Linked DNA regions of Homo sapiens: all the other regions are linked to region 5. Evidence: fine-mapped expression QTL. A gene starts in region 5. Each other region holds a variant in brackets. All regions are shown on one strand. Distances are from middle to middle.

Region 1 (4,066 bases), 68 kb before region 5:
ATCCTGGCTGGCAGAAGATGGTGGCTTGGCCAAAGTCTCCAAGCAGGTCAGCAACACAGCAGGGAGTGCAGCCCAGGGCACCTCAAACCCTGCGTGCCTTCTGTCAACTGCCTCAGGATTCACCGGGGGACTCAAGCATCCATTTCCTGGTCACCTCATTTATGCCAGGAATTGGGAGAGGTTGCCAAAGGACAAAGAAAGCAAATGAGGCATTATCAGTGCAGGGAATAGCCAATATGATAATGTGAGGCCTGCTATCCCTGGGGTACTAAGAGCAGCTTAGCTCTTATTCAGTGCTTGCCTGTAGGCCAGACGCTGTCCTAACCCATTTAAATCATCACAAGAGCCCTGCAGAATTGGCCCTTGCTATGGAATGAACCGTCCCCCACACCCCCACCAAATTCATATGTTGATGCCTTAACCCTCAAGATGACTGTATTTGGAGATAAGGCCTTTAGGAAGGTAATAAGGTTAAATGAGGTCATAATGGTGGGGCCCTAATCTGCTAGAATTGATGTCCTTATAAAAAAAAAAAAAAGAGGTGCCAGAAAGCACTCTCACCATATGCACATAAGAAAGCCATGTGAGGACAAATTAGAAGGCTGCCATTTGCAAGCCAGAAAGAGAGCCCTCATCAGAAACCAACCCTGATGACACCTTGATCTTGGGCTTCCAGCTTCCAGATCTGTGAGAAAATAAATTTCTGTCGTTTAAGCTACCGAGTTTGTGATATTTTGTTATGGTAGTTCTAGCAAATTAATGCAGGACTATAATTATCATCCCCATTTTGCAGTTGAGGAAGCTGAGGCACAGTGTGGTCAAGCACTTTGCTGAAGGCCATATGACTACAACTATTAAGTGACAGAGATAGGAGTCAGACCCAGGCATCTGTCTGCAGAGCCCAGTGTGGCCAACTGCATTATGCAACTATTTATTCCCCTTCTAGCAGCCTCCACCTCTCACTGTGGGAGGACAGACAGTATACCTCCCTGCTCCACTGACATTGGGCTTGGCCATGTCACTTGCTTTGGTTGACAGAGTGTGTGCAGTTCTGGTATGTGCCATCTCTGAGCAGAAAGCTGAAATCTGACTAAGTAGTTCTTTCAGTTCTGGTTAGAGGACAGCATGTCCTGGTTAGCGACTACCTTCACCCTGGACCTTAAACTGAGAAAATTCACAGAGCATTGCTGAGCCACAGCTGACCTGCAGGTTACCCACAGCATTTTCACTTGTAACGAACAAGAAATAAACACCTGTTGCAAGTCACTGAGCTTGGAAGATTTTGTTATGCAGCAAAGCTGACAAACACAGAGTTCCTTTTGCAAGTATTCTAACGCCCCCCAACAAACGTTTGATTTGTAAGAACTGAGTAGATAGTCAGGAGAGCCGACTTCCACTCAGGCTCTGCCATTTTGCAGCTCAGTGGCCATGGATAAGCCATTTCATCTCTGAACTTTAGTTTTCTCATCTGCAAAACAGGGATAATAAGCATCCTTACATTCTGGGGCTGTTGTAAGGATTCAGTGCCTGTAACAATTAGGATCCACTGTCTGCTCCCCCTCCGCCCCATCTCCGCCACCCCTCCTTGAAGGCCCTCCCTCCTTCCTTTCCTTCCTC[C/T]CTCCGTCCAGCCCCCCACTTCCTGGCTGCCTTAAGAAACTCCACCCTAGCTGGGCCAATTGTTCTTTGATCAATTGTTTTTCCTTATCTGTGTCTAACCCGCATGGACTCTTCTGCCTGGCTTTTACAAATGGCAAGTACGTCGCAGCTCCACCCTAGGCCTTATCGTTAACAAGGACTTTCCTGAATATCTCCAGATGTAGTGAAAGCAGGTACATGTCAAGTATATGGAACTACATGGCATTTCCTAAAAATAACTGAACGAGAGTGGAGAAAAAAACATGCACTGCCCACCTTGAAAGGCAGAGATGGCAGCACTGTGAATTATGTTTACGATGAGGTGATGCATTAGGGCTGAAGATAGAGGAGTCTGGATTAGAATCAAGTGCTGCTCTTTCAGCACAGCCTTACAGTAGGTGCTCCCTCAGCCAGGCAGTGTGGGATGTCTACACTGTACATGGAGAGGAGGGGAGGCTGGTCCTGCTCAGGGAGGTGGCAGAAAGGAGGCTGGGAGGAGCAGAACTTCACTGGGTTCCTGTGAAGGCTGGGCTTTCCCAGCCTGGAGGATCACTGAAGCCCAGCATGGAAGGTGGGGAGGGAGGGCATCTGGAGAGTCTGACTCCTCTCCCCCTCCTCCAGTCCTGCATCATAGATGAGAAACTAAGGCCTGGAAAAGGGCAGTGCCTTCCCCAAGGTCATGGAGCCAGCCAGCCTCAGAACTTGGACTAGAACCCAGTCTCCTGAGACCTGCTCAGTCATCATTCCATCGCTGGGCCTCCTGCTCAGTTAGAAGGAAATGAGATTCATCCCTTTTGCTGGCTTGGAAGGCAAATGTCAAGTTTCTCTGCTCTTGTGGGTGGATTTACCAAAACTCAATCCAATCCAATCAGCTTTTCTTTGAGTCATTTCAAAACATCTCCCGTTTCTGGGAAAGAATCAAGCCCATTCACCCACTGCCTGGGGCCTGGAACTGAAAGTGGGTAGTGAAGTGGGAAGTCAATCCCAGGCATAAAATAATAGCTGCTTGTTTCTGGTTTGGTTTTTTGAGTCCTTATTTGTTAGTTTGTTTTTCCCCCAAGTCCTGAGATAGGCCATGCTGGGGGAGAGTGGCCACAGGAAGGTACAGGCTCTGCCCTCAAGAGCTTCCACTCAAGAGTATGAGATAGGACCTTCTATGGTCGAGAAGAGACAGGGGAATTCAGCATAGGTTGGGCTGGGCAGGGAAGGCTTCGGAGAGGAGGTCAGACTGGCAACTCTTCTGGAAAATGGGAAGAAGATGACAAGGCAGAAGAGAAAAGGAATTCTAGTCTTGGAGGGTAAAGTTTTGAAAAGGAGTGAGGAGGACAAACATTCCAGATTTTTGTTTTTTCGGGGGATCTAGGGGGAAGTAGAAAGAGTTGGTAATGGGGAGGAGAATCCACGATCTCGAAGTTCAGGAAGTTGGGTGAGAGTGAGCCTCAGTTTCTTCATCTGCTAAACAGAAAAGACGGGCTAACTCTGCAGACACCTGGGGGTGGTCAATGATGTAGTACATGTGAAACATCCCAGAACAGGCACTGCAGACAATTTGGAGTTGCAGTATCCAATGCAGGATCCATGGTTGACAGACAATTCTTCATGGGTCTCTTGCACTTCTGTGTGTCTTGCAAGCAGAAGCACTGACAGCCTTCTTTTCTGAACTACCTTTTTAAGGAGGCACAGAGCCTGGAACATAGAGATAGTGTCTCCTTCCAGAGCAGGGCTCAGGTGTGCTTACTCTCCAGTATCATAAAGATAATGCCTCCCTCCAAGAGAGAAGTTGAGTAGGTTCACTTGCAGCCCATTATAATAAAAGATTGTGGTTCCTCATCTATGAAGCAAGCCCGTGGGTCTTGGGGTACAAGTAGAAATGATGTAAACATGAAACTTAAGGCTGCCTGCCGTGCTGGAGTAAAGTCTTTTGGCTCTGATCCAGGAAGCTGCTATCTTTTGTCAGCATCTGCCAACGAGCTAATTTGTTGGCTTGCAAATAGGTTGACATCTCAGGTCTGTCACAGTTCTTTATATCTACTAGCCTCACGTGGCTATTTCTTTTCTTTCTTTTCTTTTCTTTTTTTTTTTGAGACGAAGTTTCACTCTTGTCGCCCAGGGTGGAGTGCGGTGGTGCAATCTTGGCTCACTGCAATCTCCACCTCCTGGGTTCAAGCGAGTCTCCTGCCTCAGTCTCCTGAGTAGCTGGGATTACAGGTGTGTGCCACCATGCCTGGCTAATTTTTGTATTTTTAGTGGAGACAGGGTTTCACTATATTGGCCAGGCTAGTCTCGAACTCCTGACCCCACAATCCACCCACCTCGGCCTCCCAAAGTGCTGGAATTACAGGCGTGAGCCACTGCACTCACCTGCTATTTCTAATTAAACTTATATTTTAAATTTAAAATACAAGTCCTCAGTTGCACTCATTAATTAACT
Region 2 (4,066 bases), 700 kb after region 5:
AACTGTAATGATTACCACATTCTGTGATTAACCGAGAGATGGCCTAGTCCCAATTATAAAACTAATTTGGGAAGGAGTCTTTCCCTCCTGGCGTCTCATCTGTAAAAATGAAGAGGTCAAACACAGAGGCCTGAAGCTTCCCGTGCTGTGAGTCTATGATGTTATGATTTCTGTGAAATATGCTTCTGCCTTTGAAACACAGTCCCAGAATGATTCTACCCTCAAGGACAGCATCGAAAACTCAGCTAAATGCTGGGGTATCTGATGGTCAAGAAGAAAATCCATTATCCCAGAACATTCAAGGAGAATTGAAAAATTTCATACCAAATGTAGCCCACAACCTTGCTTGTCATGGTAAGAAGACAGAGACAGAAGTGTGTGCAGGCCCAGGGAGCTGGGTTGTAAGTGGAGGCGCATTAGCTGAATGAAGTGATGGCAAGGAGCAGGCACGCATAAATATTCCATGACACCCAGTTGATTTATCAGAATGAGTTCCAGCCCTCATTTGTGAAACCAGCAATGAGTCTTTTGGTTGTTCTTTGGCCGCTGCCATCCACTATGCTCTGCCTATGGCTGAAGTTCTTCTGCTCCACCAAAAAAATCATCCCCAATCTACTCTCCCTTAACACTACCAAGCTACTGAAGTTTTCCAGCATTTGGCTTATGAAATATTCACACCAAGTGTAGCAGGACACTTGAGAAAATGGAGGCAATGGAAATTGAGAGAGGTGATGTATGAAACAGCAACAGTGCTCAAAATGGAATGCCAGATTTTCCTAACACTTGAGTCTGGACTCTTTTCATTTAGAATGCTTCTCAACTTTGTCAAGTTATGGCACACACAAAAAATGTTAACATTTGTCTGGCACAATGGAATTAATAGATGGGACTCCCTGAAACTGGACAAGATACACGCTGAAGTTCCCAGGTATCCCACCCCAAGGACTAAAGGAATAGCTTAGCACCGTTATGGTATTAGTCAATTTATGCCAGCTGTTGTAACAACCAAAATCTCAGTGGATTAACACAAGCAAGGTTTATTTCTTATTTGGGTCATTGTCTAACTAGGCATTCCAAGTAGCAAGTGGTTTTCTAAATAGTGGTTCCGGGATCACAGCTCCTTCTATCTGTGGCTCTCCCATCCTCTACACTCTCCTGAGAATCCTCCATTGTTTGATTTATATACAGCCTGCTGATAAGCCAAGAGACAGAAGGAGGAGAATCATAGGACATCTTATGACAGTCAGGCATCCACCACTGTCTCCTGTATCCCATTGAGCAGATAGCAGCCACATGGTCCGTATGGCAAAAGATCCTAGTGCCCCTGACTATCCAGAGCAGAATGGGGTGGCTGAGCATCTTCCCATTATCTGTCACAGGCTTAGCCAGGCTCTTCCTTTGACCTTAGGTCCCCAAAGTGTGCTCCATGATTAGCAGCCCTGGCAGCACCTGGGGCCTTTTCAGAACTACAGAAGCTCAGGCCCTAGCTTAGGGCTGTGCATTTCAGTAAGATCCCTAGGTCATCTTGTTTTGAGAAATATTGCACCAGACCACTCACCCATCTAGTGACCATCAAAACTGCCAAACCCATCAAAACAGCAAAGAATTTTAATCAGTAAGTTTTCTATGGCCATGAACTCCCAACTCAAAATTATGTGGATACATAAAGAAAGGCACCTATCTTGCAAGAGCATCAATATTTATTAATCATGTATTTAGTGTCAAATACAAAACCAGAAACATCACACACATTATCTCATTTAAGGACTACCATAATCCTGGCCGGGCACAGTGGCTCAGGCCTGTAATCTCAGCACTTTGGGAGGCTGAGGTAGGCAGATCACCTGAGGCCAGGAGTTCGAGACCAGCCTGGCCAACATGTTGAAACCCCATTTCTACTAAAAATACAAAAAATTAGCCGGGTGTGGTGGTGGGTGCCTGTAATCCCAGTTACTTGGGAGGCTGAGGCAGGAGAATCACTTGAACCTGGGAGGCGGAGACTGAAGTGAGCCGAGATTGTGCCATTGCATTCCAGCCTTGGCAACAAGAGCAAAACTCCGTCTCAAAGGGGGGGAAAAGAAAACAACCTACCACAATCCTGAGGGAGGAGTCA[T/C]GATCTTTGCTAAAGAAAAGTGAGGAAAAAGTAAGTTTGATATGTAAAGAAACTTACCCAAGACCCCCCTGCTGGTTAGTGAGACAGTGAGACCAGAATTCAGAGCTACATGTTTCTAGTCTGGGACTTTCGGTGTTCTGCCGTGCAGTAGTTTAGCTGCATTTCAAGCTCAGTCTTTAGACAATGGCCCAGTCGATAATAACTTGAAAAGGGCTCTAGAATTATGTAATTTGGAGAAGAAAATGAAATGCTCAACAGAAGCTTAAAACATGCACATTTAAAAATTTTAAATTATTCCATGTAAAAAAGATTTTCTTGAAGTTAGATTAAAAAGAGATCTTACAGGCTGTTCCAGTTAATTTTAACCTCAGTGAGAAATGTCACATTTCCCATGCACATTTGATTAGGCATCCGGGAGTGTCAGGACATCCTGTCCCATGGTGGATTTCTGTGAGAATTATATGGTCTATGGAAATAATTATAAAACAAAGTCTCATCTCAATGTGAACAAGAGGAAGAAAATAAACCTCTAATATTCTGATATTCCAAGGACATGGCAAACCAAGATGCACTCTGAGCTCTGAAATGCCCTTTCATCCTTACACTTCTCCTATTTAGTAATACTTGTTAACTCCTGTGGTAATTGTTTGCATCTCACTGGGGATATGTTTGAATTTATTATGATCTCGACAGGCAGAGAATTTCTCATCGTGTTGACCAGTAGTTCTCAAAGGTAAGTGAGCATGAGGATACTGGGAAAGACTATGCACATGTATATTCCTGAGCCCCATCCCCAGAAATTCTGACTCAGCACATGTGGACTGGCACTCAGGAATCTAAATGCTAAAAATGCAGCCTAGGTGATATTCCTGCAGGTGGTCCATGGACGTCACTTTGAAAAATAAGAATGTCTTTTGCAGCATTGCAGTCATTCATTTGCAGTCTGCTCACTCCTTTCTGTCATTATGGTAGGACCCCATTTCTCATTCTCTTACTTCTTAATGATCAGCTCCTTGCCTAGAATCTCAGGACACAATTATTTTAATCTATAATTCTCAATAAACATTTGCTTAATGAAGGAAAATAAGTGTATAAAATAAAGAAGGTGAAGTAGATGAATGAATAAAAGAATGAATATCAAGTACAATGGGCTTCACTGCAGCATGTTGTAAGGTACTGCCCCTGTCTGTCGTAACCTACTGGGGATTGAACCGACATATTTTTCTGTTTCTGTGCTAAATAATTCTGGGACAAAGCATATTTTCCTGTTTTGTGCCAGGCAATATTGAGATCAAACAAAAATAATTTGTCTTCATTTCCAAAAAATATCTTCTCTTAAAAAATAAGGCTATGTCTTAATTGATCAGCTTACGTATCAGGGCTAACAGCATCAATACGCACATCAACACCCTCACCTGCTTTGCCATGCACAGAAATCAAGTGTTCACATTATAAACTCTGCTCAATCTTAACTAGTTCCCCACCTTGCAACCAGTTCCCTACCACTCAAGAGATAGTGAAGACTGAAACCACAGTAGAAGTCACCTACTTTGAAATACTACTAATCCACTCTCTTCATTTCTTATTTTGAAGATACTATGAGACTGTTGAGGTGACGTCGCAAGAACAAAAAACCAAACACCGCATATTCTCACTCATAGGTGGGGATTGAACAATGAGAACACATGGACACAGGAAGGGGAACATCACACTCTGGGGACTGTTGTGGGGTGGGGGGAGAGGGGAGATACACCTAATGCTAAATGACGAGTTAATGGGTGCAGCACACCAGCATGGCACATGTATACATAGGCAACTAACCTGCACATTGTGCACATGTACTCTAAAACTTAAAGTATAATAATAATAAAACAAAATAAAATAAAATAAAAAATCATCTTAATAAGCTTAACCTTCCTTGATCAGAAAGTTTTCTGGGGAGTCAACAACAAA
Region 3 (4,066 bases), 720 kb after region 5:
TGTTAAAGAATTACTTCATCCCCATGTGACCATCTCACCTCATAATCAAATGACCCTAAATCCCTCACTAACCTACCCCTGCCCTCACTAAACTTAATAATAAATGCTGGTATATCCAGTGCATTGTTGGCACCGCGGGACCAGAAGGCGGTGACCCCCCGCCGGACCCAGCTTTCACTATCTTGTGTGTGTCTATTATTTCTCAACCTGCCGATCTGCCTGGGAACAAAGAGAGAGCCCCGTTGCATTGCAGGCTGCCGGCCAGATCCCACAATATCTCTGGCCAGATCCCGCAATAGAGTATTATCTCCATTTTAAAGACAAGAAAATTGAAGTCCCAGAGGACAAAGAGGTTGAGGTCCAAGGTTACACAGCTATTAAATGTGCATCTACAACCCCTGGGCACAAGAAGGTCTTCAGCTTCTCAGTCTGGGTTGTTGCTATTATTTGTTTGTTTCATTGTTTTTTCCTTTAAACTGAGAATAGCTTTAAATTGATATTGTGTCAGAATCCATAGCCCTTCAACTTCCCAATCTTCAAAGTGTCCCCTTTCCTTCTCCAAGCCCTTTCGCCTATGGTGAGGGCAGGAGATAGTAACCTGTTATACAAAGGTATAACAACCACTTTCTCTAAGAAAGTGACAAAGGTAACGTGTAATACAAAGGTAAAGCAACACTTTCTCTAAGAAAGTGACAAATGACAGCTCCAGGCAGAAAGGAACTGCCTGGCACGTAGCACGTGATCAATAGTTCCATATTGAATGATTTAAGTGGATGAGTGAAATTGACAGAACATGAATTTTGTTGCCTTGGGTTATGGCAAATTATTAGACAATTAATGGGACTTTGGGTCAGACCTACCTCCTCAAAGTCCTGATCTTACCACTTATTAAACAAATAACCTAGGAAAAGTTACTTAGCATTGGTGAACCTCAGTTTCCTCATCTGTAAGAACACCAACAATGCTAGTACCACTTTAATAAGTTGTTATGAGGATTAAATAAAATAATTCATGTAAGATACTTAACTCCTAACTCAACAAGTGGCATCAATGTGAAGGCTATGTTTGGCACTGTTACTTACTGCATTTGCATTCTGAGCTCTCACTGGCTTCTATATCCATCATTTCCCATCCTAGAGATAAGAACCATGAACACTGGTTAAGGATACTAGGTATAATATATTAAATCACTAAATATGTTTGTGTGAGAATAGCTGTATCTATCACCAAATGCATCCTCAAAGACCAAAATTCTAACTTTAAAAATCTCAGTAAAAAATTATGCCAATATTGGAATTAAAAGAATGCAAAAAGATGGACGCATACCAACGTAGAGACAAAAGGGGAACATTAACAAATACAAACAGTTTTATTTACCTGGCATGATGAGATATGTTTTTTCCATTTTTTGTTTGTTTTTATGTTAGCCACAAGGTTACTTATGAAATAAGAAAAAGTAACGAAGAAAAAATTCAATGAAATTACATTTAAAAGCCAATGATAGCAGGAAAAACTTTGCCGTGTTCTAAAAACTGAAATTACTTTTGTTAACCTAAGCATTCATGAGATCACAGCTTCGTTAACTTGACTACAGAGTTTTTTAGTTACTTTTTCTTAAAAATCTCATGAATTTCTGCTTTACTGCTTGAGATCCATACAACAGACTACTTGGCTGGTTTCCTTTTACTTGCCTCCCATGTTTATTACTGATTCCCATTCAACAGCAGAACAGTGAAACAATAGGGCTATTCATAGGAAACACTGATGATTATTTTTATGAATTACGTGTGTCCCGTCAGATGAACTCCATTAGAACTTCCCAGAACAGTACAGATGGAAGGTTCTCAGGCCCAAGGTCATCCACTTGTTATTCCAAATAACCAGGCACCTCATTGACAATTAAGCAACACGCCTTGAGATTTCTAAGAGTTCTCTTGTTTCACAAAATTTCTTATTCCCACAAAGACCTTTAGAGA[A/G]GTATTCTACGTCATTCCCCTTTGGCCCCAGTACTTACTTGTTCCCAAAACAGCATCCTATATGCAGTCAGCAAAGCTGGGTTTGCATCTACTTCTGCCGTTTATTAACCATGTGACCTTGGATAAAACGCTTAATTTCTCTCAGTTTTAATTATGTTAACAGCCCTATCCACCTCCCCAATATCAAGTATATAACATTTTTCTACCATAATTCTATTTTTTCCTAAAACACAAACTGAGCACTTACTAGGTACCAGACCTTCTGATAGGTATTTAGGACCCGAAAAGGAAAGACACAGGATCTGTATCATTAGAGAAGACAGACACACAGATGATAAAAGTATAGGACACTGTGAGACCGCAGTGGGCATGTTGTGGGGTGGGGCACCCATCCATCCTCAGGGCATAAAAGGCTTCAAAAGACGTGATATTTCCATTCACTCTTGGATAAGAGGGACGGAGACAGGAAGGACAGTCTAATTAGTGGAAAGAGCATGGGGAAAGATACCACCACGTCAACAAGGCCAGCACATCTGGGGAAATGTGCTGCGACTCATCAGGGCTGGAGTCCAAGGGAGCATGAGGGGAGGAGGCAGGCAGGATAAATATAAAACTAGAAGGGAAACAATCACATTGATTATTGAGAATTTGTTGGTAACACTAATTAAAATAATCCTTAACATCATTGAGCTTTTGTTCCTGATTAGGTATTCCACAAATTCTTACATTCTCATTTATATCATTACCACAATCCTATGAGGTAGGTGCCATGACTATTTCCATCTTTCAGATGAACCAACAGAGGCCTAGAGGGTTTAAGCACAACAGATGACCAATTCAGGACTCTAACTCAGTTCTGTCTGATGCCACAGTCTCTGCTACTCCTAACCAATGAGTTCTCCTGCCCCAGCTGAGGGTCTGGGATTTATTGCATGGTCAGTGAGGGCCTGTGTTGGATAGACTATAGGGGGACCCCATGACCCCCACCTCTTGGTAGTTGCCTATGTAATTCCTCCTATGTAATCATCTCTCTTGAATATAGGTTGGCCTAATGACCTTTCTCTAACTGACGGATTACAGAAAAAGCAATGAAATATCAATTTCATAATAGAAAACTGTGATGTCCCTCTTGCTAGTAGGCTCTTCCTTGTTGACTGTGATGAAGTAAGAGACCATGTTGGAAAGCCCCATGAGGCAAAGAACTGAGGGCAGTTTCCACTTAACAACAATGAACATAATCTCTCAAACAGCTCTCCGAAAGCCGAATGTTGCCAACAATTTGAGTGAACTTGGAAGTAGGCCCCTCCCCCGTCAACTTTTTAGTGGAGACCCAGCCCTGGACAACTTGACTGAAGACTTGTGAGAGACCCTGACACAGGGGTCTCTAGAAAAGCAGTGTCCAGGTTCCTGCCTCACATAACGGTGAGATGATGAACATGAGCTGTTTTAAGTCACTAATTTGTAATGATTTGTGACACAGCAATCTATAAATAGCACAGAAACTTTGAAGGGTTTAAGCATAGGAATGATAAAAAATTGATCTATGTTTTATAAAGTCAGTTTTGTCATCAGGGCACAGAGTAGATTAGAGGAAGATAAGGAGGAGAGATTGGCTAAGAGGCTATTTCAAGGCAAGACATGATGGTGACCTAAATTAAGGCAGCGACAAAGGGAAGGGAGGAAGAATAGGGGAAGTTACAGAAGAGATATTGGAGGTAGATTCAGCAGGACATTAGATCCAACTTGATATATGGAAAAAGGGGAAGGGAGGGAGCATTGAGTTTAAACACAATGGGAGTCACTGCATCAGCTTCACCCAGAGTTGTAGACCTTACTGCTGTCAGCAGCTACTTGGAGCAGCAGCCTGACCTTCATCAATACCAACAACAGAGGATCCACTGAACACCTATATGGGACAAGGGAATTTCTTAGGCCATTTGGGTACCAAATTCTAAAAGCCTCATGCTGAGAAAATTTGACACTCTTTAAGACCACAATAAGAGAATCATCCTCTTTGAAATTCAGCCCAGACAGGAGTCTTGGCATCAGGACACTACATCTAAATGCCCCCTCAATGAAGCAGTTCACTT
Region 4 (4,066 bases), 120 kb after region 5:
TAGAAAGTGGACATCTTTGAGAGTCATTCTGCCTAACACACACATCATTACTATCTTCATCTTCATTATCATCATTACAAAGCAGTTGGATTACCCAGAACCATGCGTAGTTTGCATATCACATGACTATAAAAGGTAATTTTACAAAATACGATGAAATCTAGCAGAAGTGGTTCTAAAGGAATGACGAGAGGACAATTTACTTGGTAAGGTGGCCAGTTGGCAAGACTGAGAAACTGGTTGCAGTGACAGGAATCACATTTCTGAACCAAAAGCAAAACATCAAAAGGCCGTGGTCTGACAAATGTGAATACTTAAATGGACATTAGGTGAGCATACTGGGAAGATGTAAGAGGGGAAGTGGCCACAGTTGTAGAAGCAGATTTTGGGGTGATACCATTGAAGTAAAACTTAAAGGCTACTATGCCAAAGGGCCAATTTAACAAATGGAAAAAATATGTATATTTCAAAATGTCAGACCTCAAGGAGAAAGGTTTGTGACAAATTAAGAGTGTGAGATTTGAATATTTTACACTAATAACCACAGTGTTTCATTCCTCAGTAGTGACTCATTTTGTTCTCTCTCCATACCAACCCCATCTCTCTCACACAGACACACATGCTCCCTAGTACCCAGGGCTCCCAGGACTCATGCCTTGGGAAGTGAGAGGACTCAGCCCGAATTCATGAAACTCAGATAAAGTGGGAGGCGCATCAGGTTGAAGGGAATCCAAGGGCCATTTCCTTGGGAATTTCAGAAAGAATCTGGGAATGTTATAAACATGGTTGATGCTTTGAGAACACAGGTTCTAGTCTGGATGAAGTCTTGGCATGTTCTTAGAGTTGCCTGGGGCTCCAAGCTTTGGTGATTGGGAGGCTTTCACGGATGCAGAGAAGAAACACTACCCTGTGACAAGCATCACTGCTGAAATCTCTCTGTGGGCTAAGCCTCTTCATTTACTTAGTATCTGAGAAAGGAGGAGAAGAGTGGCTTCCTGTCATTTGTCCAATCCAATACATACTTGTCGAGAGTCAAATATGCTGAAGCCATTCTAGGCCCTGGAATAGGAGGTGAGCAAAGCAGACTAAATCCCTATGCACTGGGGCTTATTTTCTACTGTCCACCTCTCCTTGGTAAAGTTCTACTCACCTTTGAGACCCACCATGGAAACCACATCAGTCATTCATGCATGAACACATTCCTATATTCCGTCAACATCTCTTAAAAATATACCATGCTAGACACTGAACCTTGCAGAGGTGTGAGAAGGTCTTTCCCCCAGAAGCTGAAGTGCAGAAGATAAGACGTGATAGGTAAAGATGCACACACATGGTATCATGGGGGCAAGGTGAGAAGCAGAACCAGTGCTAGGAGTATAGATTGGCCAATCCCAGACCAAGGGCAGAGGCATCCTTAGAGGAGGTCTCCCTGGGGCAGAATGTCAGGAAAGGCATCCCCAAGGGATAACTGGGTCAGGGTGGAGTGGGGCTGGTGCTGTGGAAGCCCTCAGTGTGGGATGGCTCATGGGGTTTCAGGGAAGCCTGGGAATCCAGGTAGGTGGAAGAGCAGAATGGGCAGTGGTGGGGAGATACAGGTGACAGGGAGAGCTGGAGAGTGGAGGGCAGCTACTGGGGGCCCTGTGGCCACATTGCAGATACTCTTTTGGGACAGAGGGCCTGGGGGAGGGTGAAAAGTGCCTGTCTTGGTGACCCCCACACCAGTGATTATGCATTATGACAGTTTGACCACAAAAAAAGCACCCCATCTACCCCCGACCTGTTTCAGGAAA[C/T]GGTTAGCCACAGAAACCCTTAGCCCTAATATTGAACAATCCTTCCTCTTTTGAAACTGAGGAGCTGCTTGCCTGCCTTTGCAGCTAAGGGCAGCTGAATCTACCTGAGGACCTATTAGGATGTTTCCTCGCAGCTAAAAATCCCGCCTTAATAGTATACTTGTCAATCCAAGATTGTCTCAGCATTTCCTGTTTTTATTCTATAAAACTGACTCTCCTTTCTAACACCTTTGAAGCCCTGCTGAAATGAAGGCGACAGCAGGCTACCTCCCTTGCTGCAATTTTATGGATAAATGTCGTTTGTTTATTTGATCTTGGATGCAGTGTTGTCTTTGCCACTAGAAAGCGTGACATGAAAGATTCTGTCACGATGAGAATACTACTTACTGAGGATTCGCAATGGGCCACTGATCAGCACTTCATATAATCTGCACAAAATCTCCCATTAAGTAGGTACTCTTGCCTTCATCAGCATCATCTTCACTTTATAGGTAAAGAAAGTAAGGTACAGAGATGATAATGAACTTGCCCAAAGTCACACAGCTGGTAAGTGATGAAAATGGGATTTGAACCCAGGCAGCCTCAAGATTCTGCACTTTTCCCCACTATACGATGTGGTTCTGATGCTGATGAGGTTTTCCTTCACATTTTTGAGGGCCTGTAGTGTTTTCTGAGTTCGGAAATGACGCGCGAGAATTTAGACCTCTGATGGACTGCTTCACCATTCCTGAGGGATGATGGGGTGAGGGTGGGAGGCTGAGGGGGGTAGTCCGGACACGAAGCCCAGGCAGAGGCCCCAAACCAGTGCAGTGGCAGCTGGGATGGAGGCAAGTGTGAGCCATGAGAGACCTTATCCAGTAGGCTGACACTTTTCCAGGCTGGAGTCTTTAATTCCAACCACAGAACTTGGAAGGACAGGTAGGTAGGACAGATAGCATTTTACAGAAGATGAAGAAACTGAGGTCAACGGTGGGTCACTCGCCTAGAGTCACTCAGCAAACTTGTGGCAGAACCAGATTCCAAGGATTCACTGGCTCTCAGTTGTGGACCTGGAGGGAAGGTGCAGCCCCAGACACAAAGCTGGAGTCCCAGGACATACCTGTTGCTTCTGCCTGTGGGGTATTTGAGCAGCTCATGCTCTAGCCTACCTGCGCCTCATCACAATAGTTCCTGAAAGGGACATTGGAGTTAGAGTTTGAAAGCCACATTTATATAAAGTGTCACTTTGTCTTCAGGCCAAATGTGAAAACTGGATTGTGATTTCCATTTTGTGGATGTGGTTTGGGGGTTAAGCGATAAAGCCAAGGAGACGCAGCTGGTAGATGGAGCAGCTAGGTCTAGTTCTTGGCTTTGAAGTCGAGGGGGCATTGACTGCATGAACTGCCTTCATTATCCACTCACCTCATTAAGAGCATTGGCAAGACTGTGAAATTGACCCTAAGCATGTGTGTGCTTTCTTTGAAACATAACTTAAAGGGTAAGTGTAAAGATTCACAATGCACTGGAAAGTGGGGGTGAGGTCTAGCAGGGCCTTTTCTGATATTCTGAGAGGTCATTTAAATCTTGTCTGGTCTGTTTCCAGGCCCTGCAAGGCACCAGGCTTGCTTTGACTGGCTGCCCTCAGAGTGTATGAAGATGAGAGTGTTATTAGAATCCAAAGTCATTCATTGGCCAGTGCTGGTAAACTAAAATCCGAAACGTGTGCAAAATGCGTTTTTTCTTTGGAGAAGGTGACATCTCATCTGAGTGCCTCAGGCCCCTGGAAGATGTTATCTGCTAAGAAGAAATCACACATGCCAGGTTACCCGTCTTTAGGTGATTTCTTCGAAGTGTGGCCGCACCTCCCTTGATGACTGCTGGGGGGTGTAATGAATCACCCACTTGCGGGAGAAGGCTGGAGAATTTGCTTTACCAGAGATACAGAAGTGGAGGGAATGCACAGATATTGAAGTGTGTGTGCACGCATATGTGAGTTTACATGCTTTGCATGCCCCTGTGTGCACACATGAGTGCATTTGTGTGTGCACAAGTGCATTGATGTACACACATGTGCATCTCCAGCCCTACTGAGGTCTCACAGAGGGGCAGATCAAGACAGTTCCTTAGAAACAACTACTAGCAAGGCATTTATGGAAGTGGCCTGGCCCTGGGAAGCTCAGAGCATCAGATTGTGAAGCAGAATTTTACATAATGACTCCAGGAAAGGATGCGGAGTAATGGAAGGAATACCGATTTAGAAAGCAAGGGGCTAAGCCCTGTCTCTGCTCCCAGCCTAC
Region 5 (4,066 bases):
GGGCAGCGCGGGGTAAAGAAAATCAGGAGGCTCCGCCCGCAGCTTCTACGAACAGGCCAGGAGTAGAGCCCCCGCACGTAGTAGGTGCTCCAGGCACGTCTAGAAGCCTAAAGGGCTTGGTCGATACATTTGAACTCCATTTTAGAGACTGGAAGGGAAGAAGGGGGCGTCCGGGCCCCTGCCAGCACCTTCCACCTTGGGGCCTTGTCAATGAACACTGCGTTAGCACCTACGACGTGCCAGGCGCCCTGGCGACTATTGGAAAACCCGGCTCCCCTCTCACCCCGTTTTCCTCGTTGGCGAGTCGGCCTCGCCTCCTCCTCCCGTCTCTTCCTCTCACCACACACACCCAGCCGCAGAGCGGGGGTGGGCGCTCGCTGTCTCCCTGGAGAACCAGCTCGTCGCAAACTTGCGGGGCTTGGGGACCCGCGAGGGGGAGAAGTCGGGAGAGGCCAGGGGTGCCCGGAAACAATCACGAGAAAGCCGGGCGAATGCCTGATGCAGGGACGCGGCGAGCCAGTCACTGCCCTCAGGGTCACGGCTGACTCCCTCTGCGGGACTCGCCCAGCCCGCGAGACGCAGTGACCTGCCCAACCCCCACCCCCTTGCGCGCTTCTGGGTGCGCACGTGTCCCCTCGCCCAACACACCACCGAGCCCCGCGCATGGTACGGCCGCCGAGGACCCTAGCGTAGGAGGGAGGAGCGAGTCAGGGCTCCAGCTGACGAGCAGAGCCAGACGATCCCCACACGCTTCCTGGGAGACCCGGCTGCAAGGCCAGGCTAATGCGCGCTCCGACGTCTCTGTGCCAAGCCGGGGCGCAAGCTCAACCCCCATCTCAAGTTCAGCCGCGCTTCCTCCCGCAAGGTCACGCTTAAACACTCGCGCAGAGAAAGGAGGAGCGGAAAGTTGCGCCACCGTCCCGATTCCAAACTAACTGTACCCTCACCAGAGCGCCTCGCCCCAGGGTCACCGCTGTCCGTCCCCGTGCGCTCCCAGAAGGGGTGGCCCTGCCCCCACGCAGGTCACACACACGAGAGACACAGGCAAGTTGCTAACTTTTGTCAGATTATTTCTTGGGAGCTGCGACGCCTCACGGGGTTGGGGCGGATTCAGAGTTTCGAGTTGCCACTAACACGACTCCGGCCGTGCTCTCCTTGGCCCACCCGCGTCCCCCACTGTCCGCCACGCCGCGTTCAGCTCTCTTGTCCCGGGTGTCAACTTCACCCCCAGATCCGGAGCAGCGCGCTCTGACGGCGTCCCCGGGGCCGATAGCCACCTCCCGGATCTGCGCCTGCTTGCAGCGGATTGGGGGACTCGATCCGGATACTGTCCCACGGCCGCTCGTCCAGAACACTGGCGGCCTCCGCGGTGTCCCAGCCTGTGACCCCAAATCCGCTCGAGAGCGCCTGAGCCCGGCCACCCAGCGAGGTCTCCTCCCACGGGCGGCCCCAGCGGAGGAGATCCCAGCCCGGCGCCGGGTGCAATGTCACTGGGGCTGCTTTCGGGAACCGCTGCCCGGGACTTGGCGTAGGTTCCCCACAGAGCTCCAGGCAGCTCCTCCAGTGTCGGCCGAAGACCCCTAAGCCCGAACCTCCACCCCGACCTTCTTCCTCTCCCAAAGCCCTGGGTGGTCGCCGCTGCCAAGGAAGGGGTCTCCCTTCGAATGTCTTCCACTAGAATCCCGGGGTCTTCAGTCCCAGCTCCACTGTCACACCCTCCTAGTCCCCTCCCCACCCCTTCAGTTCCCGGGTCCAGACAATCAACCTTCCACTCCGAGAATCCACAGGAAACTGCCCGAGCCCCAACTCAGGCGGACGCAGCCCCCGCGCACCCCGAGCAGGGTTCGCCTCCGCGCGCGCACTCACCACGGCTGGAGACACGCTGGAGTTTCCGGGATTTGGGCATGAAGGGGTTCGGAGGAGAATACAGGGGTGTGGGTGTCCCGGACACTTGCCCCCTTCCCAGCTCACATCGCCTCTTCCTTCTCTCTCCGCTCTTCTTCCTCCTCCTCCTCCCTCCGGTCTAGGGCTCTTTGTCTTTGCAAAGTGTCGAAACTGTCTGGCATAGTGGGCTCCGCCGGCGGAGGCTGGAGCCGAGGAAGCGAGGAGGCGGGATGAGGGTGGGAGAGGGCTCGGGAACACCTTCCCCCGGGTGTAACGGGAGTGAAAGGCGGGGCGACCGAGGAGGGGCCGCCTTCCCTGGCCGGCCGGGGCCGGGTGCCAGGGCGCGCCAGAGCCCAGCCACCGCCTCCCCTGCGCGCGGCCCTCCCCTTCCTCCGCCCAGTGCCCGCCCCTCCCGACTCTGCGCCTCCGTTCGGCCCCGCCCACCCCAACTTGGCTCGGCTTTCCCTTGGCTCCGGGCTTCCTGCAAGCCGAATTTAGCTCTGCCAAGCCACGTGGACCGCAGCGGGCTCGGCAGAGGCCGAGCCTGGGAGACGCCGGAGGCGGCGGCTGCGGCGCGGGGACCTGATCGGCGCCCCGAGAGGAGCTCCCCGCTCTCTGGACGCGGCCCTCAAGCTGGCGGGGCTAAGGAAGAGCGCCCGGGAGGCCCGGGAGCCACTGGGGTCCGTTTCAGCAGGAAGACGGGCACGCACCGAGAGGATGGCAGTGCCCAGAAGAACTCGAGTCGGGGGCACGGTGGGGAGAAGGGGCCGATCCCCTGCTGGCGACCGGGCAGAGCCACCCACTTCCTCTAAGGGCGCGGGACTCGAGGTGGGATTTAGGGAGGGGGAAGGGAGGAGCGTGGGCTGGACGACTCTTGCGGCCAGAACCGCGTTCAGAGCCACAGAGCCGGGCACTGCGGCCGGCCCTGGTCCCGGCCCCGGCCCTGGCCCAGCCCTTGCCCTGGCTCGCCTGCCGCCGCTTTTTCCTTCCAGATGCGGAGGCTGCGGCTGGAGCTTGGGGTTTGCGGATTAGGCTTGCAGTTATTCAGCCCTCCCTCTTTTACAGGGAAGCGGGGGCGGTGGAGACTTCTTTTGCTGAAAGGCAGAGTGCAGCGCTTTGATGCTAAATGCAGTACACAAGTCATGTAAATCTGGTTTTACGGTTCTTAACCCCTTACTGAGACTACCTCTTTCGCAACTTTTCGGAGGAATGTTAGAGGAAAGAGGCACAGTTTGCCTTTGGGGTCATTGCATCCTTCCAGCGCCCCTTGCTCCAGCTGGAGAGAGATCAACCTTTTGCAGTGGAAGGGGAGAGTCCCCCAGCCTTTGTTTCATCAGACGGCTGCTGTAGTACAGGGATTCAGGCCAGGGCCCGCATGGCCGGACTTCTTGGTTCAAATCCTGCACTGCCACTCAACGGATGTGTGAGCTTGGGCTAGTGACTGAACCTCCCAGCCTAGGTGACTCTGTGCCTCGGTGTCCTCATCTGTGAGAACCGACCTAAGAAGTGTCTGTCTGATAAAGCTGTTGTGATGAGTTAGTGAATTCGTACACATAGAACCTTTAGAACTGTCTTTGACATGTAGTAAGTCAGCTGTGTAGATGGTGGGTTTCTCCAGTGTCAGGTCCCTGCCCACAGCAGGAAGATGACCTGTGCTAGAAGATGGGGGCTAGGGTGTTGGGGAAGACTTCAGGGACTTGGGAGAGAAAAGGAGAAATATTCAGAGATGAGAAAAGTAGAAGAAAAACCAGCTTTTAAAAGGGGGAGGAGAGAGAATGAGAAAAATAACTACTAGAAAGGGAAGGAAAAGATGAATAGCCTTTTAGGTACTTCGGGACCTGCTCTGAGACCTCTTGCCTGACGCCCTTGGTTTTTGATAGAATTCTAGAGAAGGGGTGAGCCCTTTTGTCTGCCTGGACACATCCTGTGGGCTTTCCTCTTTCTGAAACTCAGGTCAAGGTGTTCACTGCATCTCCAGATTGCTTGTGTGCATGGGAGGAGGGGGGCAGAGAGTTCTGCTTACATCGGCTACTGTCCCCTCCACCAGCAGCGTCTTCCAGCAAAGAAGAGCTTCTAACATGCACCAGACTTTTAGCTTTGGCTGGGAATATCGTCTGGGCCAATAAAGAGTTTTTGGATGAAATAACAAAAGTGTTGTTTATTGTATGGATCAAATAATGTA
Region 6 (4,066 bases), 330 kb after region 5:
GCCTACATCAAGGAAGCTGCCTGCTGTTAGGGGAACAGGATACCTGCAGAGGCTCCGGTCCTGACAATGCCTTCAGCTCCACCTCCCACCAAAGACCTGTGTGGTGTCAGCAGCAGCCCCATTTGCAGGTGAGGACAGAACTTAGAGCCCTGACTGTTGGGACCCTCTCCACCTAAAATGCAACCCCCTGAGGTGCTGAGGAGCACACCAGAGCCTTCTTCCACTTGCCAGCCCTTCAGCTATTTACAGGTGGGCCTCACATCCCTCCACAGTCTTCTCTGCCCCTCCAGATAAACATTCCCAGTTTCTTCAACCATCTCTCAGGGGATAAACATGCTCCTCACACATTCTGTTTCTCCTGGTTCCTGCTTTCTATCAAACAAGTTGTTTATATCACCTGGCTGATCCTTGCCATATGTTACTGCTCATTTCTGGAGTCTGAATAGTCTGGCTAATTATCATTTCTCCCATGGGCAGAACTTCCCAGAGCAGGTTATCTGCAATGGAAGCAGTGATGCAGCACCCACATGTCCCAGAGGAAGGGTTGTCAGCTGACAGCTCACAGCTGGATCACGCTGGGGGATTTTTTTTCTTTCCCCTGGAGAAAATGCATCTAATGACTGATTGAGATGACGAACAGAAGTCTGGCCCTTTGCGTAAGTATGAAAGGTCTTTGAAGGGCCTTGTCAACTTCTGCACTCCCCATGGAATCAGCTGAGATCTCTGTTTCAACTGTATGGCAAGTTAACCTTGCCCTCTGCCCAATTCTGCTTCCTTTATCACTTAGGTTGCTGATCCTGACAGTGCACCATGATAAACCTTCTGCATAGATATTTTCATCTCGGGGCCTGTTTCCCAGAGAGCCCAACCTAAAGACACCTGCTCGTCAATGCAAAATGAGCCTGTGAATTAACTGCCTTGAGTCAGATAGTTAGAACTCATGGTTGGCCATAACTTTCTTTAGGAAAAAACAGCCTAGGGACAAGGATAGAGCTGTTTCCTTTACAAAGGGGGGATAGGAAGGCCTGTCTCCATGACCATACCAGAAGAAAATGCTTTCGAATTCCTTTGCCACCCTGACTCCCTTCTCTGCTTCACTTTTGGTGGTTTCAAAGGTCTTATATAGGACTAGAAACTTCAGACGGGATCTGGATAGTGGAGAATGGAGATGGAACCTCACACCATAAATAATTGCCACTAATTTATGTACTATTCTAGCTCCAATAGCTACAGTCCTGTGTTTATTAGCCTAAATAGGACCTGAAGTTGTGTTGTGATCTTGGCTAGCCTTGTTTCTCTGACTATATCTCCTGACATAATCCTGTGTTGCACCCATTGCGATAGCTTGTATACTCTATTTACTTTAGTATAGCCAGTATATGCCATAGCCATAGTATAGGTTGTGCTGTCTGTAACTGAAGTTGCCACCTGGCTTGAACCTCTTTTTCTTTTCGCCAGCTATTTCCCCTGCCCACTTCAGTCAGCCTGAACAACTTCTGTACTTCCTTGACACCTCAATTCACTCATCACCTTCTTCTACATTCTTAGCACCTTTGCTGACCTCTTTAAGCTTAGATGGGTCATCCCCACTTTGTGCTCCCACCCTAGTTGCCCTGCAGACCTCCATCACAGCATTTGCCATTTTTCTTTGCAGGACCCTATCCTTCAGGGCACTGGTCACATCCCATCCACCTTTGTACCTCTAGCAGCTAGCGCAGTGGTCACATCTCATCCACCTTTGTACCTCTAGCAGCTAGCGCAGTGCCTAGGACATAGACAGTGGAATTAGAGTAAACTAAACTCAAATTTTATAGTTCTAATTTTGAGACTTTCAGCCTATTAGAGAGATACCAGCTCTGCCAACCTACCACATTGCCTTGTGATACATTAGGCAACTTTGCAAGCAGTTTCAAAGTTTCCGTTTTGTGACTGACCTAACTAACTCCTCCCTAAACCCACAGGAGGGAAGTGTGAAATGGGCTCGAT[G/GT]TTTACAGTAACAAAACTAGACATGCAAGTTGCTTCTGTTTGTTTTGATTCAGAAATATTTCAGCACAGAGCATTGGATTAAGGGGGATGCCTGGCGGAGGTGAACCATGTGATCATCCTGACTTTATGTTTGTGGCTACTCCTGAATCATGGCTTAGGAAAGGGGAATCCAAGCAGAGCACAGCAGGTTTGCTAAACTGGGGAGGCAGAGATTAGAGTTTAAAGTTTACAAAGTTTCAGGATGACAGAGAGAACAGAGCTGCATAAAAGAGCAGCTCCAGAAATTTATGTATCAGTCCCCTTAAGGCACTGGATGCAATTAAAGTATACATGTTTAGGGCAAGACTACCCAACCTTTGGCAAAAACAACTTCTGGAGAGCTACAAGATGAGCAGAGATCATTGATGATACACAGTGCTGAGAAATATAGGTGTTCCAATAATCCAGAGTGGAGAGAAGACCTCAACTGAGATCCAGAAAGACTACATCTGAGAAGCAGGGTTCCTCTCATCCTAGAGTAAGAGTACTCTAGAACGACTCTAGCAAAGCTTAACAACAAGCCTTAAAAGATCAATCTAATCTTCCAGCAAATTAACTGTCCGCAATAACAAAACTTAGCATTCTCTGAAAAAAACAACAAAATGCAGACTCTCAATGTAGCGTCACAATGTCTAGAATACAATAAAAATTTATAGACAAACGTAGAAGCAGGAAAATGCAATCTATGCAAACATAGCTAATGAAAGCTGATCCTAAGATGACTCAGATGTTGGGTCAAGAATTTTAAAGCAGCTTTATAAATATGTTCGAGTACATAAAGGAAAATGTAGTGATAATAAATTAACAGACGTGGAATCTTAACAGAGCAATGTAAATTATAAAAAGGAACCAAATTAAAATTTTAGAACTATAAAGTACAATATCTGATGTAAAACATTAACTGATGGGCTTAACAACCAACTGGAGACAACAGAAGAAAGGACTAATAAACTTTTACAAATTAATAGAAATTTTTCAGCAGAAAACAGCTGGCAGAAGTGTCAATATCTGGTAAAACTAATATTTATTTTAATATTAGTTTTGCCTTAAAATACTTCTCTCTCTCTCTCTCTCTCTCTCTCTCTCCACTCAGTTCTCTCTTTTTCTTTCTATTTCACAGTGATAACTCCAATTTTAATTTAGCACCATAGGGTTGATTCTAGCTTTCTCTTTCCTATATTTGTCACTCCCTTCTCTGACGGTGCAAAATCTAGGTCCCATTTTCTTTAATACTATTACTTATTGGATCAATCCTCCACATATGTTTCAATCATATGTATCCCACACCATCACCACCCTCTCTCTTGTGCAGGTGCCCTCCTCACTCTGCTTAGGCTCTGAAAGCCCATGCCAAACCACTGCCCTCTGTGGACACTGCCCTTAACATTCTCTAGCTTAGCTGCCTCATTGTGTTTCCTCCCCAACCCTTGCAAGTGGAAGACTCAACATTATTAGACCACTTGGATTTATGAAACATGCCAGACTCACTTGCATTTCTGCCCATCCTCAAATTTTCATTCCCTTTGCATGGAATATCCTCTCTGACATGACCAATGGGCAGAGTCCTCTTTTTAAATTTGAGTTTAAATATTTCCTAATCTTCAAAGCCTTCTTCTGTGCTGGGGATGGTTGCAATGCTCCTTTATCCTAGTCTTAATCTTGCATGCCCCTCCACTGCCCAGGTATTTCCAGACCCTTGTGCACCCTGGTGCACTCTGAATTCCTTGCAGGGTGAGCATCATCAGCATCTCACACATCAAAGATGCCTGATGGTGTGGCCACCGAAACTTACCCCTGTTGCAGCAGCACCAGGGATGTGAGAATGGCTGTGTATGGCGAACAATGTGTGAAGTTAATACACCAGCTTCAAGCGTGTTTTGGGGCACCTGCATATCTATCTCTCATGCCTTCCGCTCTACTGTGACGGGTCAGTTTCCACCCCCTGCCGCTTCATTGCTGGAGGATCCTAATAAATTCAAGATCATTTTACTCCTTAGTTGTTTTTCAGGCTTTGGACAAAGTCTGCTACCCACAGTGCAGT
Region 7 (4,066 bases), 50 kb before region 5:
CAAGGATTCTTACTTACAAGCATCATATTTTGGGACCTCTGTGCAGGTCTTTACAATCTTCCCCACTCATCATTCTTTCAGCCCACGCATATTTACTGAGCAGCTGCAATGGGCCAGGTAACGTTTGTGGGGGCTAAGTCTACAGCAGGGAACAAAACAGATGAAGGGAGCTGAAATTCTAGGGGAGGCAGAGACTATGCAAAGAAATGAGTGTGTAGAGGTCAGCTGATAGGGAGGAACATAGAGAGGCTGGAGCCGGGGACAACTCGCAGCGGGGTGTGGTGTGCACAACACCTGCCCACACGCTGCTTGGTATATATTCCGTGGTGAATTCCATCTTGCTGGAGGCAGCCCCCTCTTCTGGCACCACAGAAGTTTCTGCGTCTTGACACTTCTGCCTTCAAAATGCTCCTAGTTGTTCCACTTTCAACTGAAACAATTTAGATCATCAGGACTCCTAGAGCTTCTCACAAGTCACTGTGAAAAGCTGTTGGGTATGGGCCCACCTAGGACCTTTCCTGAGCCAGGAGCTCATGGGTTTGGACCCCTGTTCAGCAGAAACATGAATCCCCTGCAGGGAAGCAGGGTCTCTGGCAGCCCACCCCACCATAGCCTCCAGTCTAGAACAAAAGGACATTTGCTTGAGGTATCAAAAGCCTCAAAAAGTGCTCTTTCCTTCTACTGCATACGTAATTCCCCTTTTCGGAGTCTATTCCAGGAAATGGCTCAATGTGCAGTTTTGTGCCCAAAGATGTTTATCATGTTATTTTTTGTGGGTTTTTTTTTTTTTTTTTTGACAGAGTCTCACTTTGTCGTCCAGGCTAAAGTGCTATGGTGCGATTCCAGCTCACTGCAACCTCTGCCTCCCAGGTTCAGGCAATTCTTGTGCCTCAGCCTCCTGAGTAGCTGGGATTACAGGTGTGCACCACCACACCCAGCTAATTTTTGTTTTTGTGGGTTGTTTTTTTTTTTTTTTGAGACAGTCTTGCTCTGTTGCCCAGGCTAGAGTGCAGTGGTGCAATCTTGGCTCACTGCAACCTCCGCTTCCTGGGTTCAAGCAATTTTCCTGCCTCAGCCTCCCAAGTAGCTGGGATTACAGGTGTGCACCACCACACCCAGCTAATTTTTGTTTTTGTGGGTTGTTTTTTTTTTTTTTTGAGACAGTCTTGCTCTGTTGCCCAGGCTAGAGTGCAGTGGTGCAATCTTGGCTCACTGCAACCTCCGCTTCCTGGGTTCAAGCAATTTTCCTGCCTCAGCCTCCCAAGTAGCTGGGATTACAGGTGTGTGCCACCACACCCAGCTAATTTTTGGGGGTTTTTTGAGACGGAATCTTGCTCTATTGCCCAGGCTAGAGTGCAGTGGCGTGATCTCCGCTCACTGTAACCTCCATCTCTTGGGTTCAAGCAATTCTCCTGCCTCAGCCTCCTGAGTAGCTGGGATTACAGGCGCCTGCCACCGTGCCCAGCTAATTTTTGTATTTTTATTAGAGACGGGGTTTCATTATCTTGGCCAGGCTCGTCTCAAACTCCTGACCTC[G/A]TGATCCACCCACCTCGGCCTCCCAAAGTGCTGGAATTACAGGCGTGAAACACCGCCCCCAGGCCTATCATGTTATTTTTAATAGCAAAATGTAGAGAGCTCCTCCTGCATGCTCCACATTAAGGAAATTATTAATTAAACCATGATATGTTAAAATATCTGTTACAGGACAGAAGTTTTCAATCATTAATAATGATCATGAAGAATTTTAAATAACACGGAGGAATATCTACTACACTGTTAAATTGGAAACGAAAAGAGAAAAGCATTTCAGAATTATAATTCCAATTTTAGTATATGTTAACCTAGAGGAACCAAAATGCCGTGAAAGAAAACAGTATGAACTACTAAGATAGGTACTTTCTGGGAGAGTGGTTTCTGTAGGATTTTCTGTTTCTGTTTTGAGCTTTTATACTTTTCTCTGTTTTCAGGATTTGTTTCAGTGGTCATGGGTTACTTTTCTGAATGAAACTTCCAAACTTCCAAACAAAACAAAACAAAAACCTTAAAAATGGTGGTGCCTTTATAATCTTCTCCAGCAGCCCAACTCTGGGCAGAAAGCCTCCCAGAAGTCTTTGACGTGAGCACTCCCAAGAGCTATATAGAATGGGGAAGCCATCTAAGATTTAAAATTCTATTCCTAGAAGCTTATACCCAAAGCAGAGAAAAAGTAGGAAGCAATATAGAAAGCTAGCAGGAAGGAAAGTTCAGAGGATGTGGAAAAACGCAGACCCAGCAACATTTTTTAAAAATCTAAAAAAAATTGCAAATGGCTTCCCTGGAATGGTGGCTCAGGACACTGCCCCTAGATGCTGAGGCTCTCCAGGCACAGAAGGTTCCCTGCTTTAATTCAAAGCCCCATCACAGGCACAGTGTGGTTTGATCTCTACCCCTCTGGAAATGTGTTGCAATTCCAAGTCATAGCTGAGGGTCTGAGGCTCAGAGAGGTCAACTGACTTGCCTGAGGCCACACAGCCTGTGTGGGGCAGAGCAGTAAGTGGGACCTTAAGCCTTCTGATCTGACTCTCAGAGTACTTTACCCTGTACCCCAGCTGGTCCAGGGTGCTGAGGCGCTGGCACAGAAAAGCCTACGTTCATATCCAGCAGAGTCACCTGGTGGCCGCAGGGTCTTGCTAGTTAACCCCTGAGAGCCTGGGTTTCATCCAAAAACTGAAGACAAACATAACACTGGCCTAAGGGGCACAGTGTTAAGCACGTGACACTCCACAAGCACACACTAAATGGACACACTAATTACTGTCGTTATTTTGCCACCACTATCCTCCCTGGAGTACAATCCTTCTCTGGCCTCCTGGTGTGCTCCCAACACCCTCACCAGGCGAGGGAAGGGGCTCATCTCACTGTCTCTGTCCCTAGAGCCTAGGGCAGAGAAGGTGCTAAGAAAATGAGCACTGTGGGGAAGAGACAGGGATGAAATCTCTCAAGAAGAGACAGCCTTGCTGGGGGAGACATTCAGCACGGTGTTTCTAAACTTCATGGAGTTTCTGGACAACTGTGCTCAATTCACTTCTAATTTCAAACAGATGGGGCTGCGCTCTGTCACTCCCACCTGGCCCAGGGCCCTGGCGAGCAGCAAGGGGCCTCTCCCTTCTGCCCTGCTGAGAGGGGAGTTGCGTGGCTTCTGGGAGCAGGGGAAGTGGGTCCTAACTCTTCTGTGGGGGGTTGCTAATCTCCCAAACACCACAGAGAACATGGGAGACTGGAGGGTCCAGGTCTCAATTCACAGACACTGCCACACCCCCATGCACACCTCTGTCCTAGCACAAGTCACAAAGGTGTGCAGCTGTTGCTTTCTCCACCCTTAGAAGCAGTACAGAGATTCCACAGCCAAACCACCTGAGCCTCAATCTGGCTCTGCCCACTTTGCTGGGCACCCTCAGGCAAGTAACTCAACCTCCCTGTGCCTTCATTTCCTCCTCTGTAAAGTGAAGATGGTGATGCTTAAAGTGGCAGCTACTTCAAAGGGGCACTGGAAGGATGCATCAGGAGTTCCTGCAGAGCATTTAGAAGGGTCTTATTGCAGATGGAATGGCCACTTGTCCTGCTCTGTGACAAAGCAAAGTCGACTCTCATGGGACTCTCAGGACCTCCCTGGAGGCCTGCAAGAGGTCAGCACCATTCCTAGGTACCAGATTTATGACCAATTGACAAATGTCTGTTGAGCTTCTTGCTGGAGAACAAGTACAAACGGACTGGCAGAAGGCTGGGTATGGGAGCCACAAGGGTCTCTATCCCTCGTCCTCGTCTCTCGAAGTGGGAGTGTATTTTTTCACCCACTGGATGTTGTGACACGCTTTAGCCAATGGAATGTGGGAAGAAGTGTCAAGATGCCAGTTCAGAACCATAATCATAAGAGCTTTGTGTCCTTCGGGGAGCTTCTGACCTCCATTATGAGAAAAACATGCTTCAGGCAGCCTGTGACCCTCCAGTCAGGGCCAACTCAACTCAAAGACTAAGCCAGAACCACCACATGTGACCCACAGACCTATGAAATCTGAATGAATGCTCT

Direction of the effects. Alleles are on the strand shown, and positions count from the first base shown. SD is a standard deviation of normalised expression in the study named. Not every link is listed here.
With allele T in place of C in region 2, the expression in unexposed skin of the gene that starts at base 2,061 in region 5 is lower (small effect, 0.38 SD a copy in GTEx).
With allele G in place of A in region 3, the expression in tibial nerve of the gene that starts at base 2,061 in region 5 is lower (small effect, 0.32 SD a copy in GTEx).

Evidence for each region. PIP is the estimated chance that this variant, and not a neighbour inherited with it, causes the effect.
Region 1: its variant is fine-mapped to the expression of ST3GAL1 in whole blood (TOPMed, PIP above 0.99).
Region 2: its variant is fine-mapped to the expression of ST3GAL1 in unexposed skin (GTEx, PIP above 0.99).
Region 3: its variant is fine-mapped to the expression of ST3GAL1 in tibial nerve (GTEx, PIP above 0.99).
Region 4: its variant is fine-mapped to the expression of ST3GAL1 in whole blood (TOPMed, PIP above 0.99).
Region 6: its variant is fine-mapped to the expression of ST3GAL1 in whole blood (TOPMed, PIP above 0.99).
Region 7: its variant is fine-mapped to the expression of ST3GAL1 in whole blood (TOPMed, PIP above 0.99).

The regions. Positions count from the first base shown.
Region 1 is chr8:133,501,903-133,505,968 of GRCh38, forward strand. All of the region lies in intron 2 of ST3GAL1 (ST3 beta-galactoside alpha-2,3-sialyltransferase 1), which reads right to left. Among named protein-coding and RNA genes, the nearest start is that of ST3GAL1-DT, 67 kb to the right of the region's middle. RefSeq lists an enhancer at 1-227 and a silencer at 1,118-1,187. The variant C/T (reference allele first, on the strand shown) is at 1,618.
Region 2 is chr8:134,269,100-134,273,165 of GRCh38, forward strand. No RefSeq gene overlaps it. Among named protein-coding and RNA genes, the nearest start is that of ZFAT, 440 kb to the right of the region's middle. The variant T/C (reference allele first, on the strand shown) is at 2,114.
Region 3 is chr8:134,288,737-134,292,802 of GRCh38, forward strand. No RefSeq gene overlaps it. Among named protein-coding and RNA genes, the nearest start is that of ZFAT, 420 kb to the right of the region's middle. The variant A/G (reference allele first, on the strand shown) is at 1,977.
Region 4 is chr8:133,692,646-133,696,711 of GRCh38, forward strand. No RefSeq gene overlaps it. Among named protein-coding and RNA genes, the nearest start is that of LINC03024, 11 kb to the left of the region's middle. RefSeq lists enhancers at 1,387-1,656, 3,789-4,066. The variant C/T (reference allele first, on the strand shown) is at 1,791.
Region 5 is chr8:133,569,827-133,573,892 of GRCh38, forward strand. It overlaps ST3GAL1 (ST3 beta-galactoside alpha-2,3-sialyltransferase 1), which reads right to left and starts at 2,061. Exons shown (of 10, transcript NM_173344.3): 1 at 1,867-2,061. It overlaps ST3GAL1-DT (ST3GAL1 divergent transcript), which reads left to right and starts at 746. Exons shown (of 2, transcript NR_186509.1): 1 at 746-1,044; 2 at 1,232-4,030. RefSeq lists enhancers at 1-701, 61-280 and silencers at 2,071-2,560, 2,751-2,810.
Region 6 is chr8:133,897,561-133,901,626 of GRCh38, forward strand. It overlaps LOC101927822 (a long non-coding RNA gene), which reads left to right. Exons shown (of 4, transcript NR_125424.1): 2 at 1-128; 3 at 478-656. Among named protein-coding and RNA genes, the nearest start is that of LINC03024, 220 kb to the left of the region's middle. RefSeq lists an enhancer at 1-187. The variant G/GT (reference allele first, on the strand shown) is at 1,987.
Region 7 is chr8:133,519,997-133,524,062 of GRCh38, forward strand. All of the region lies in intron 2 of ST3GAL1 (ST3 beta-galactoside alpha-2,3-sialyltransferase 1), which reads right to left. Among named protein-coding and RNA genes, the nearest start is that of ST3GAL1-DT, 49 kb to the right of the region's middle. RefSeq lists an enhancer at 3,661-3,830. The variant G/A (reference allele first, on the strand shown) is at 1,537.